Regions from separate parts of the Homo sapiens genome. Here all the other regions are linked to region 1. The links come from fine-mapping of genetic effects on gene expression. A gene starts in region 1. Each other region holds a variant in brackets. All regions are shown on one strand. Distances are from middle to middle.

Region 1 (4,216 bases):
AATGAAGGGGCACAGGGAGGGTCTGGTGGCTTCTATGGAGAGTTCCCAAAATGTCTCAAATATCTTTGCTAAAATGCAAGGACTTAAGGCACATTCTTAGGAGGTATCCAGCTGGAGTCAGAGATGCCTCCTTGTCCCTTGGGGAGCCAGCGAGCTCCTAGCCCCCGGGACAACTCAACATCTCCATGGAGGCCACTGTGGTGGTCGCTGGTGCCGGGTCCACAGGCGTTCACTGTGTTCTCCACCGTGGCGCTTCTTCCCCTGGGGCCCTCACGGTCAGTGCAGAGCACCAAAGAGTTGCCGCTGTGTAGAGAATTCTTATAATTGTGCATTGCATCCATTTTGAATCTAATTTGGACCCTCTCCTACCAGAAGCAGGGTTTATTGCTCTTGACACGGTGTCTAGGGCTCCACCCCCTCCCAGTTCCTCAATGCGGCCAACCCAGATATCTGCCTTGTACACCCACCTCCTGGTGACCATTTCCCTGTGGGACAGGCAGATACAGCCCATTTGATGGTCTCAGTGACTCCACACCCCACAGGGACTTCCCAGACATGCCGCCATGCCCACCTCTCAGCCACAGGGACCCCACGGAGCCCGTGTCTGTTTGCTCTAAACCCACCAGTGAGAAGTCCCCTTGGGAAACCTGCTTGGGAAACGTCCTGGACCCCAATAAAGGCTTAGGACCCAGGTCTCTCTCTCTCCCTTCACCCCCCTCCAGGTGAGTGTTTGTGACCCAGACAGCTCCCCACTTTTTGCTGGCCCCGTGGGGTGCACTGCCCTCTCCCTGGGATCTGTAAGTGACACGGTGCTTGTGTTGCTTCCTGTGTCTTCTTGTGCTGCCTCCTGCATCTCCCCTGACCCACACCCCAACCCAACTCTCCTCCCATCAGGGATCTCTTAGGAAGTGGCTGTCTTGATAGGAATAAACTGGACATGGGTCAGACGAGAGCCACAAGGGTGTCTGTCCATAGAAACAAGTTTTATGTGAGAGAGACCCCTGGTCACTGGGCAGGGCTAGAATTTATAGTCAGTCTCTCAAAGTGAGAGATACAGCCTGCTACCAATGACAGGGGACTTGGAGAGCAGTGGAGCCTCTCCCTCAGCTGAGATGGTGCTGAGGTGTGGTCCCCTCAGGCCCCCAGAGTTTCCTGGCACTGGCTCCAGCAGCCCAGGGTCACCTTCTCAGCAAGTCATCATGGGTTGGCTTCCTCCTTGTCTGTTTCACTTCCCCTCCCACATAAACTAGTCTCCCCAAATCCTGTCTCAGGGTCCCCTCCTGGGGGATCCCAACCAATGAGCAAAGGTCTGTGGCTGCAGGAAAAGCACACTGTGAGTCCCTGGCTTTTGCCGAGTCGCGGTGTCGCGGGAGGGCCTGCCCGGGCTTCGATTCCCGCTCCCTGCCCAGATTTCCGGCCCTTGCTAGGAATCCTGAGCCGGGGGAAGTGAGCCTGCAAGCCCTGCGCCACGAGGCCGGACACATTTTCATTTTCTTTCTGATGCTTTTTGTGACCCTGACACCTCACAATGCAATATTTCCACTATGAAACCCCCAGAACTGCCAAATTTCACCCAATTTGGATTAACATTATCGAGGAGCTTGGCATTATGTTGAAAACCCAGACATTCCCACGACCCGTATCCTATTTAAAAAATGCCTGTCTATTTAAGGTTCACGATGGGAGGATAAAAGAAAAAAGGCTCCCAAAGTCAACAGAGAACATGAGCTAGGCAAAAGGAAAGTCCAGTTTGCTTCTAAAAAAGGCTGAAAATTATAACCATCCATGGCCTTGTGTCTTAAGTCTCAGAATTTTTTTTTTCTCTTTTGGTGGTTTGCAAACCAAAGTGGAATTTTATTATGGGTTACTAAGGGAGCTTCCTCGAGTTCCTAGCCCCCAAAGCCCCTGCTCACTCCATGGCATGCCTCCGAGGCTCCTCATGCCATGAGAAAGAGAATGGAGCCAAAATCAAGCCGGCAGTATCTCGGGGCTGTAACGTCTTCCCCCCGTCGCTGTTTCCACAGTGCTGAGCCAGGGACCCGGCAGAGCTGCCTGACTCCTTTTATGAACAACAGCACCGTGATGAAGGCAGCAGGAGTCAGAGAACTATTCATTGCAGGAAGCCCCAACATCCGGTGAGAAATAAGAAGTACAACAGTACAGGATGCGCCTTGGGTCAGGGGGACGTGGAAAGCCCTCAGCCTTTGTGTCCTTCTCTGCGCCGGAGTGGCTGCAGCTCACCCCTCAGCTCCCCTTGGGGCCCAGCTGGGAGCCGAGATAGAAGCTCCTGTCGCCGCTGGGCTTCTCGCCTCCCGCAGAGGGCCACACAGAGACCGGGATGGCCACCTCCATGGGCCTGCTGCTGCTGCTGCTGCTGCTCCTGACCCAGCCCGGGGCGGGGACGGGAGCTGACACGGAGGCGGTGGTCTGCGTGGGGACCGCCTGCTACACGGCCCACTCGGGCAAGCTGAGCGCTGCCGAGGCCCAGAACCACTGCAACCAGAACGGGGGCAACCTGGCCACTGTGAAGAGCAAGGAGGAGGCCCAGCACGTCCAGCGAGTACTGGCCCAGCTCCTGAGGCGGGAGGCAGCCCTGACGGCGAGGATGAGCAAGTTCTGGATTGGGCTCCAGCGAGAGAAGGGCAAGTGCCTGGACCCTAGTCTGCCGCTGAAGGGCTTCAGCTGGGTGGGCGGGGGGGAGGACACGCCTTACTCTAACTGGCACAAGGAGCTCCGGAACTCGTGCATCTCCAAGCGCTGTGTGTCTCTGCTGCTGGACCTGTCCCAGCCGCTCCTTCCCAGCCGCCTCCCCAAGTGGTCTGAGGGCCCCTGTGGGAGCCCAGGCTCCCCCGGAAGTAACATTGAGGGCTTCGTGTGCAAGTTCAGCTTCAAAGGCATGTGCCGGCCTCTGGCCCTGGGGGGCCCAGGTCAGGTGACCTACACCACCCCCTTCCAGACCACCAGTTCCTCCTTGGAGGCTGTGCCCTTTGCCTCTGCGGCCAATGTAGCCTGTGGGGAAGGTGACAAGGACGAGACTCAGAGTCATTATTTCCTGTGCAAGGAGAAGGCCCCCGATGTGTTCGACTGGGGCAGCTCGGGCCCCCTCTGTGTCAGCCCCAAGTATGGCTGCAACTTCAACAATGGGGGCTGCCACCAGGACTGCTTTGAAGGGGGGGATGGCTCCTTCCTCTGCGGCTGCCGACCAGGATTCCGGCTGCTGGATGACCTGGTGACCTGTGCCTCTCGAAACCCTTGCAGCTCCAGCCCATGTCGTGGGGGGGCCACGTGCGTCCTGGGACCCCATGGGAAAAACTACACGTGCCGCTGCCCCCAAGGGTACCAGCTGGACTCGAGTCAGCTGGACTGTGTGGACGTGGATGAATGCCAGGACTCCCCCTGTGCCCAGGAGTGTGTCAACACCCCTGGGGGCTTCCGCTGCGAATGCTGGGTTGGCTATGAGCCGGGCGGTCCTGGAGAGGGGGCCTGTCAGGATGTGGATGAGTGTGCTCTGGGTCGCTCGCCTTGCGCCCAGGGCTGCACCAACACAGATGGCTCATTTCACTGCTCCTGTGAGGAGGGCTACGTCCTGGCCGGGGAGGACGGGACTCAGTGCCAGGACGTGGATGAGTGTGTGGGCCCGGGGGGCCCCCTCTGCGACAGCTTGTGCTTCAACACACAAGGGTCCTTCCACTGTGGCTGCCTGCCAGGCTGGGTGCTGGCCCCAAATGGGGTCTCTTGCACCATGGGGCCTGTGTCTCTGGGACCACCATCTGGGCCCCCCGATGAGGAGGACAAAGGAGAGAAAGAAGGGAGCACCGTGCCCCGTGCTGCAACAGCCAGTCCCACAAGGGGCCCCGAGGGCACCCCCAAGGCTACACCCACCACAAGTAGACCTTCGCTGTCATCTGACGCCCCCATCACATCTGCCCCACTCAAGATGCTGGCCCCCAGTGGGTCCCCAGGCGTCTGGAGGGAGCCCAGCATCCATCACGCCACAGCTGCCTCTGGCCCCCAGGAGCCTGCAGGTGGGGACTCCTCCGTGGCCACACAAAACAACGATGGCACTGACGGGCAAAAGCTGCTTTTATTCTACATCCTAGGCACCGTGGTGGCCATCCTACTCCTGCTGGCCCTGGCTCTGGGGCTACTGGTCTATCGCAAGCGGAGAGCGAAGAGGGAGGAGAAGAAGGAGAAGAAGCCCCAGAATGCGGCAGAC
Region 2 (4,216 bases), 74 kb before region 1:
CAAGGAGAACCTGCTCCTTTGAATGTGAGATGCCAGGGCTTGGCCTTCCCTGGCTTCAACCACACTCATCCCAAAGTTAACACCTCTGTGTGCCAACTATCCCTGTGGCTAGAGGCGTCTGGCCTCTCTTCTCCCTGGTGGGAAATTGTGTCCATCTCCCAGGGCCTAAGTTGAGACCCTTTTCTGCTGTGGAGCTGCCTTTGCTGTTCCATTCCACACAGCTGCAGCCATTTCAACTCCAGGAGGCTACTTTGAACCCAATTTTTACATTTCCCCTGCTATTTTCTAGTAATGTCATATATGTTACTCTGCTTTCTGCAAATGCGAGGTGAACTGAGGAAGGGGTTCCCCGTTGGAGGGTGTCAGTGCCTCCGGGTTTATCCAGTCACTCAACTCATGTATTGGGTTCCTGCTATGCACCAGCCCAACAGTGTGTCCAGGACTACAGCGGTGAGCCTGTGTGGGAGGAAATGGGGAAGCAGCCAGGAAGGCTGGGGAGCCATCGTCTCAGCCCGGGGCCACAGCCGCTGCACCCCACCCCCAACAGCTAGGAAGGCTGGGGAGCCATCGTTTCAGCCCGGGGCCACAGCCGCTGCGCCCCTCCACAGTGGAGGATCTGCTCCAGGGCCCTGCACTCGCACAGCAGTTTCCTGTGCTCGCATGCTAGTGTGGCTCAAGAACTTTCAGATTGCACACTCATACTTTACTCAGCTCTGTCAGGATCCCTGGGTCTGCACAGAATGTCAGTCCTGACTTGTGAAAAGCAGGCTAGGGGGATGGAGCCTCAGCATGCCTAAGCCAGGCCTCCTGGGGGAGCTGGGGCTGGCTCCTGCGGCCTCCTGGGCTCACCTTGCTGCCTTGTCTTGCCTCAGCCTCTCCCTCTGCCCACACCTCGAGGTGCCAGCCGAGGTTCCTAGAGGCAGGAGTGGCCCAGAGGCGATCCGAAACCCCACGGACGCTTACTTGGTGGCACAGCCTCCTCTGAGAGTTTCCACAAGCAAGGACCCTGGTGTGTTCCACCACCGACCCTGAGGCCTGTGAGGAAACCCAGGGCTGGACTCCAGGCTGCTCAGTGTGGGAGAGTCTCAGAGAACTCCAGAGGGTGACACTCACACCCGACAAGGAGACATTGCCCTGTGTATGTGTTGGGGGCTGGGGGGGAGTTGGGCTGTCAGCGGAGATGCCCTTGGGTGGCACCCGTCCATATGGGCTTTTCTTTTCAGAAGTCTGCAGAGCTGGGTCTGGAAGCTAGGGCAGCAACATGATTTAGCAACACAGAAAATAATATTTCTGCCAAGAGCCATACCACCCTGAACATGCCCCATCTCAGCAGATCTCAGAAGCTCAGCAGGGTCTGGCCTGGTTAGTACCTTGATGGGAGACTGAGACTATCAGGTGCTATAGGCTTAAAAAAAAATTCCAGTTTCTCCCTGCTCTAAACCCCTGCTCTTCATTTCCTGACCATTGCCTAAGGACCCATTCAGAGGACTGGAAACCTCTGAATGAGTCTCAGCCTCTCCCTTGCTTGCTCCTAAGGAGAGCTGGGTGTTAGCCAGCCAAGTCTGGGGTGCAGAAACTGTTGAGAGGACGAAGACAGGCAGGGTGGGCGGAGACAGGAAGGGAAGGAGATTCCTGCTTCTTGGATCAGCTTCTGAGCCCTCTTTTGTTTTGAAGAATTCAGGTAATGGGTAAATAGGGAGAAAACTTTACAGTCCATGTAAAATGCTG[A/G]TAGAGCACAGACAGAAGATGAAAATAGGAAAGACTCAAAAGCTGGAAGTGATGTGAATGTTTGCCATTTCAAGTGAAAGGCTACCGAGTTTTGGAAGAATAAGAAAATAAATAAAACATAATTTTAAGAAGTGTTGCTCTGGTTTTTAAATTGAATCCCTTTTAGCATTCTTCCAGACACCTGAGTGAAAACTGAAACTAACCATAGATGCCTTTTGTTTTAGCCTGGTGCTGCTTTGACAGTGACTCTGTGTATAGCCTGGACCACATGAAGCCCAATTTATATTTCGGTTACACACACACAGGTGCACGCACACACACTATAGAAATACATCTCAGAAATGTACTCTTAAGGGGACAACTGAAATGATTCATTGCACCATGGAAATGTATTCGTTCATCTGTTAAGCAGCCGTGTCTATCTCACTGATGGATTAAGGTCCAGTTTCATTCTGTATGCTGACTCCTTCATTCCCTCCTCCTTGGCAAAGCATTTTACTTCAGCTAGCTTCAAAGGGTGTCACACCCAGGGTAAAGAAATAAGTCTCCTCTCTGCTTTAAATTTCACAATGAACCCTGCTATAGAAATCATAAAAAGAGTTGCTTTTCTCATCTGCTGCAGCCAGCCCCAAAGTACATCCAGCCATATCAAATTAAAGCTGCTTACCAGAGACCATGTCAGCTCTGGGTGAAAGTAGTGCAGAAGAAGCATTGCTGAACTTCCTGGAACTTGTGGACAGAACATCTGCCAGGGCAGCTGGGAGCTGAAGGACCAAGAAAATTAAAACCCAGTGACAAGATGAATGAGGATCCCTTGCTCCCATGTTGTGTCTAATTACCCAGAGGAAAAGCCAACAATGGGTACTGTAAATTGTCCTTGGAAAACAATCCTGGGAGTGGTTCTGCCCTTCTGTGTCCCCAGCCAAGCTTCCCCACCCACCCCACCCCCAGGCTGGCTCCACCAGCCTCCTTCTAAGGAGCACTTCAAGTGTGCTCCATCCTGCTCCACACCCCCGGGTGCCACTTCCTCTGCTTTTCCTCTCCCTAAATGAGGCCTCACCCCCTTCCTGTTTTCTGGGTCACTAATGACTTCAACTCAGGGAAGGGAAATGTTATCTTGAGCCCTTTCCTTTGTCTTCACCTTCACTATTTGGCTTAGCTGTAGATCTAACGATACATGAGGGGAAGAACCACTTTGGGTGCTTGAAAATGGGGTACAAGGAACCAGTGACTGACTCTGGTGCTTGTTGGGCGGTTCCACCAGGTGCTGGGACCCTTGTCTTCAAGTCCAGCTTGCACCGGTGGCAAGGGGCAGAAATGATGTCCCAGGGCAAAGTACCAGAATAAAAATCACGTGCACACACAGGCTTTGGTCAGTTGTAAGGAGACAGCAGCTTAATAGCTTCCAGCCTTCAATACAAAAATAAAGCTCTGTGAAAAATATAATGAATAAAGTGTGATTCCTATTTTTAGGTTACAATTCTTCTTTAAAACACAAATATGGCCAATGGCAAATGTTGGACACCCATGCAATGTGCTTGTCTTAAATTCTTGGATGCCATGTTTATGTACTTATCCCAAAATGTCAGCACCAGCTCAATGTATGTTTTCTAAAATTGCTTCTGTGTCTTTTAGAGGATTACAATACCTGATTTCTTATCCCATGAAACACAGCTGGGGGTAGCGATCAGAGAAGGGCTCTGGTCCAGTGGCTTGATGTCCTCCATTGAGGAGGGGATGGAGATGGACCCTCCCTCGTCGTGATGCATGGAAGCAAGGTGAATCCCTGCACGGCTGGGTTAGAGGTATTCAAAAGGCCCATAGGAGCACTTGATCTTTTCTCTACTGCTCTCTTGACCTGAGCTTTCCTCCTCAGCATGGAGAAATGGGCTGGAAGAAGTTTCTAAGGGCAAGATGAGGCCATAAAGGACTCCTCCTTCCTGAATCTCTTTGGATCAGCACAAGTGCCTTTCCCCCAGAGCAAATATTTTAGCATATTCTTAAAAGAGAAGATGCTCCCGGATCAGTGGAGGTGCAAGTCAGCAGGGTAGAAGGTGCTTTTCTGGGCATCAGCTGTGATTTTTTGACTATGAATAATGAAAGACACACAATGCAAACCACTTTGCTTTCTCTGAATCTCATTTAATCTGCTTGACGATACTAGGAGGAAGCTGGGAGTTAATCTCCCCACATTTTTGAGACTGAGTCTCAGAGAAGTGAAATGACTTGCCCAAATTAACACTCACTTAGTAAATATTTATGGATTATCTACTGAGTACCAAGCACTTGTTTCAGCCATGGGTTTATGGAGATAAAAAGAAGAGGGGTCCCTTGTCCTCCTGGCACCTACAGCCTGCACCCAGGGCTGCCTGAGAATGGGAAGATGTGAGCTGCTAATCACAGAGTGGAACTGGGAGCAAAAATAACATTTCTCTGGGCATCATGTTTGAGATGAACTGAGTTGCCCTTCAGAGACCTGCTGCCTCAT
Region 3 (4,216 bases), 27 kb before region 1:
AACAATACTTTCCAGGTGACATCGATAGTTAAGAAAAAGTTAGAGGATAAAACCTCAAAAAGAGTAAGAAATCTAAAAGTCTAGATCAGTGTTTTACAGAACTCAGGTTTTCAGATGACTCCTTTGGGATAATCAGCTTTCTGCAGTTATGTTATGTATGGGACATTTTTGGGTGGCAATAAAGAAAAAGAGGTAGGGGTCAGGCCTATGGGACTGGGAGGCCCGCTACGCAACTCAGAATGGCTGGGACTTCTCGGAGCCCATGCTTCCATTTAGAGGGCCCAATAGAACCGTTTTCTTTGTGGCAGATAAAACCATGGCTAAGTGCAGTGGCTTACGCCTGTAACCCCCACACTTTGGGAGGCTGAGGTGAGAGGGTCATTTGAGGTCAGCAGTTCACAACCAGCCTGGCCAAAATGGTGAAACCCGTCTCTATTAAAAATACAAAAATTAGCTGGGCATGGTGGCAGGCACTTGTAATCCCAGCTACTCAGGAGGCTGAGGCAGGAGAATTGCGTGAACCTAGGAGACGGAGGTTGCAGTGAGCAGAGATCTCACCACTGCACCCAAGCCTGGGAGACAGAGCAAGACTCTGTCAAAAAAAGAAAAAAAGAAAAAAAAAAAAACCACACAAAAACAAAAAGGACCCAGAAGCAGTCCTTCAGGTTAAATGATACTTCCTTGTCATATGAAGGCCGCATGGGCCCAGTGCCCTGCTGGGCAAATGGAGTTTCCCAGTAATTCGGAATTGGGGGAACCTACACTGTGAGCCCCATGGCGCTCTGAAGGCTGAGACTTGGTGTTAGCCAGGAACTGTCCTTTTGTTGTTGTGTTACATCACTGTGTTAAATTGAACCATTCTGGTGTTCTAGGCTTGTTTTATCATATTTGTAAATGTTTCGGTTTAGTAGTTACAGGAGAGTTAGAGCGTATGGTAATGTTATCTGATCTGACTAAAGTACTATTTAAGGACAGCGGTGGGAAATATGGCCTATGAGAGCCCAAATGTTACAGGCTACAACTGAGACTCCAAAGAGAACCTGGCCTCTCAGACTCAGCAAATGGAATTCTTGGTTCAAGGGCTGGTTTGCCCAGCATGTGTCGGTGCCCACACTTGGAGCAACCTGCCAGCACCAGGATGGGTCCCACTGGAGGAAGCAGCAGTCGATGCTCTAATGCGGTGGGAAGAACAAGGAGCAATTCTGAAAACAGAAGTGTCAAAGTTACCATCCCTTCTCTTGGTTCCTGAGAATCCTTGGCCAGAAGACACAAACACCTGCCTTCCTTGCTCCAGGAACCAGAGAGGTGGTGTAGACCTCAGGAAGTCTGCTCAAGGACAAGAGGCAGTCAGCGGCTTCCAGAACAGCTTCTAGATTGTGGGGGAGTGGGGAAGGGCTGGTCTGGGAGCAGGAAGAAGCTCAGTTCTGCTGCTGGCTGGCTGTGTGCCCACAGACAAGGAAGTCTCTTTCACTGTCCAAGCCTGAGTTTCTTTAAAATAAAATGTAAAGTTAAAATAAAATGTAAGAATGCAGTGGCACCCTAGATGTAAACTGTGTGTGCCTCGTCACAGAGCAGGTGCAGAGCAAATGCCAATTCCTTCCCAGTGCCCAGCCCACCCCAGGCCCACGGGGGGCTGCCTGGCCTCTGTGCCCAGCCTGAGACTACACTGAACTCAGGGGCTGTCATTTCCCCTCAAGGTTGCTCTGCTCGCAAATCATCTGATTTCATCAGGACAGTGAATGGTGGAGGGAGGTTGAGGCAGCAGGGTAAGTAAGTATCTGTGAGACGACCAACAGCTATTCTGGACTTCGTAAAAATGTAAAGCTCTCTGAAGGACATAGCATAACAGGCACAGCTTTCCTCAACTAGTTGAAGTGGTTCTTGGCTTTCCTGGTCTAATGCAACTCAC[G/A]GGACAAATGGCTGGTGGTCCTCTATCCTCCCTGCCCTCTGAGTCATTCTCCAGCCTGGCTCGGGCCTGTGCACCAGGTCTTGTGCCTGCTGGGGCCTCTAAAGCCATCCATGTCTCCAGGTCTCTGCAACAGCAGCAGGATTCCAGTGGCAAGCTGATAGGAGAAATTTAACAGGGCTTTTCCTGTCTACCTTGACTGGATTGTTCTTATTTTTATTTGCAGAAACCAGAGTAAGGCAGCCCATCCATCAATCAATGCCTGCTGCTCCTTATGCCCCCATGGCAGGTATCAAACTCCTGCTGCATTCTGGGGCCTGACGAAGAGTTGCAGATGCATGTGGAATGGGCTGAACTCTGAACCCATGTGTTCATGTAGTACCTTTGCCACGTAGATGCATACTCCAGCTACTGCTCTAGGTACTAAGGATGGATTAGTCACACATCAGGCGAGCCTCTGCTCTTGTAGAGCTGTAAGGTGACCAGTGCAATGAAGGAAGATGGGGAGGTGAGGGAGGTAAGACCTGGGAATGTGGGGGAGGGGGCAAGTACCTGCAGAAGCTGAGTGTGTGAGCTATGAGGAGAACACCACAAGAAAGAGTATCCAGGCAGGGGGAGAGGTGAACTCACAGTTTCTGAAGTGGCCTGTGCTTAGCATATTCTAGAAAAGCCAGGGAGCTAGTAGGGCCAGGAAGGAGTGTTTTGTCTTATTTTGTTTTTCAACAAATGAATGAACACATGGGAACAGTGCATGCTGGCTAATTACCATGTAAACTATTCACCTGCTCTTGCTGGTAGGATGGTAATGCTTCCTGAACAGAGGTGTCCAGTCAGCCTGGCTCAGCATGCCCTGCCTACACAGGGATGATAAGCCATCACACAGCTTGTGGGTCTGAGCCATGCTGCACAGTTCCACCAGACACAGAAGTCGTGCCTCCAAGGACCTGGGCAAGGCCAAACTCCACCTGCAGGAACCACACAGCTGTTATAGCTGATGTCCTGGCTTCCTGTGCTGGAGGAGCTGTCTGGGTCTTCTGGATTTTGAAGCTGGAGACATCTGAGCTGTGGCATTTTGCTGTAGTTACTGCACTTCTTTGAGTATCTCATTAATTTCTAAAATGGGCATAGTAATAACTAGTAGCATGTAGAATTTTGGGGAGGAAAATCAGAACATGTAAGTGATACTGGCTGAATTGTGTCCCCAAAATTCATTTGTTGACCTTGTCACCTCAGCACCTCAGAACTTGACCTTAGTAGGAGAAAAGTCCTTTAAAGCAGTGAGTAAGGTAAGTGAGACCCTGGGGGCTAGCTGAAACCCTAATGCAATAGGACTATGTCCTTACGAGAAGAGGAGATGAGGACGCAGACACTCACAAAGGGAGGACTGTGTGCGGAGCAGGGAGGAGAGGGGCATCTGCAGGCCAGGGAGTGAGGCTCAGAGGAGCCGGGCCTACCCACACCTTGATCTTGAAACTGCAACCTCCGGAGCTGTGAGAAGACACATTTCTGCCTTTGCCCCTGCCTGTGGGGCTGCCAGAGCAGCCCAAACTGACTAAGTCAGCTGGTGAGGACCCCTGGGAATGCTCGCCTGTGAAATTCGGCCCACGGACTCCGGGGAGGCCCCAACTGTCTGTGGTGGCAGGTTTGGAGTGACCATGGGCTGGATGTCCTCACAGCTCCTCTTACGTTTTTAAAAAAAGTGACATTGATGTAGCTTCGAGGCTGATAGGGCCAGGGCCATTTCATTATTTTGGCTTAAATGTGTGTATTTGCCATTTTTTCACCCTGCCCCGAAGCCCCTTGCTGTGTGCCGGCCCATGGGGCGCATGTCTCTGGGGGCAGGGTGGGAGCTAGAAGTGGATTTCGACAGGTGCATCAGGCCCTGCCCTGTCGCCTCACCCTAGTGGCCCTGGGTCTCAGGGTCCTTATGTGTGAGCACAGGGCGATAACAACGCCTTCGAGAACCCAGCCAGTTCCCGCAGGATTCTAATGTGGTGATGGGGAGGGGGGCACTGATGCTCCTCTCCCATCTTTGGTTCGCCCCGAGCTCAGAGCTCAGCTCACAGCCTGTCCTCACTGACCATGAGTCCCTCAAGCATCAGCACTTCTCGGTCCTTAGCCTGAGCAGCAGCCCGTGCAGGGCAGCTGGGAGAGCCAGGGCATAAAAGCTTCAGCCACCCTCTGTGGTGAGGGGCAGGAGGCAGCTGCTGGCAGGTCAGCTCTTGGACGTTTCACACCTGTCCTTTCGAGACTGTGCTCCAGCTCCCAACAGAGCACCAGTCTCGGGAAGCACCTGCCCTGTCTCCTCTC

Direction of the effects. Positions count from the first base shown, and alleles are read on the strand shown. Sizes are in standard deviations (SD) of each study's normalised expression. Not every link is listed here.
In carriers of allele A in region 3, the expression in macrophages of the gene that starts at base 2,207 in region 1 tends to be higher than with G alone (moderate effect, 0.51 SD a copy in Nedelec 2016).

Evidence for each region. PIP is the estimated chance that this variant, and not a neighbour inherited with it, causes the effect.
Region 2: its variant is the best candidate, but not a certain one, in a credible set for the expression of CD93 in whole blood (INTERVAL, PIP 0.56).
Region 3: its variant is the best candidate, but not a certain one, in a credible set for the expression of CD93 in macrophages (Nedelec 2016, PIP 0.77).

What each region holds. Positions count from the first base shown.
Region 1 is chr20:23,084,315-23,088,530 of GRCh38, reverse strand. CD93 (CD93 molecule) reads left to right here and starts at 2,207. Exons shown (of 2, transcript NM_012072.4): 1 at 2,207-4,216. The coding sequence starts at 2,339. RefSeq lists enhancers at 377-516, 2,044-2,223.
Region 2 is chr20:23,158,048-23,162,263 of GRCh38, reverse strand. It overlaps LINC03125 (long intergenic non-protein coding RNA 3125), which reads right to left. Exons shown (of 6, transcript NR_199692.1): 2 at 2,396-2,492. It also overlaps the pseudogene RNA5SP478. Among named protein-coding and RNA genes, the nearest start is that of LINC03125, 12 kb to the right of the region's middle. RefSeq lists an enhancer at 363-412 and a silencer at 1,938-2,037. The variant A/G (reference allele first, on the strand shown) is at 1,729.
Region 3 is chr20:23,111,410-23,115,625 of GRCh38, reverse strand. No RefSeq gene overlaps it. Among named protein-coding and RNA genes, the nearest start is that of LINC00656, 19 kb to the left of the region's middle. The variant G/A (reference allele first, on the strand shown) is at 1,910.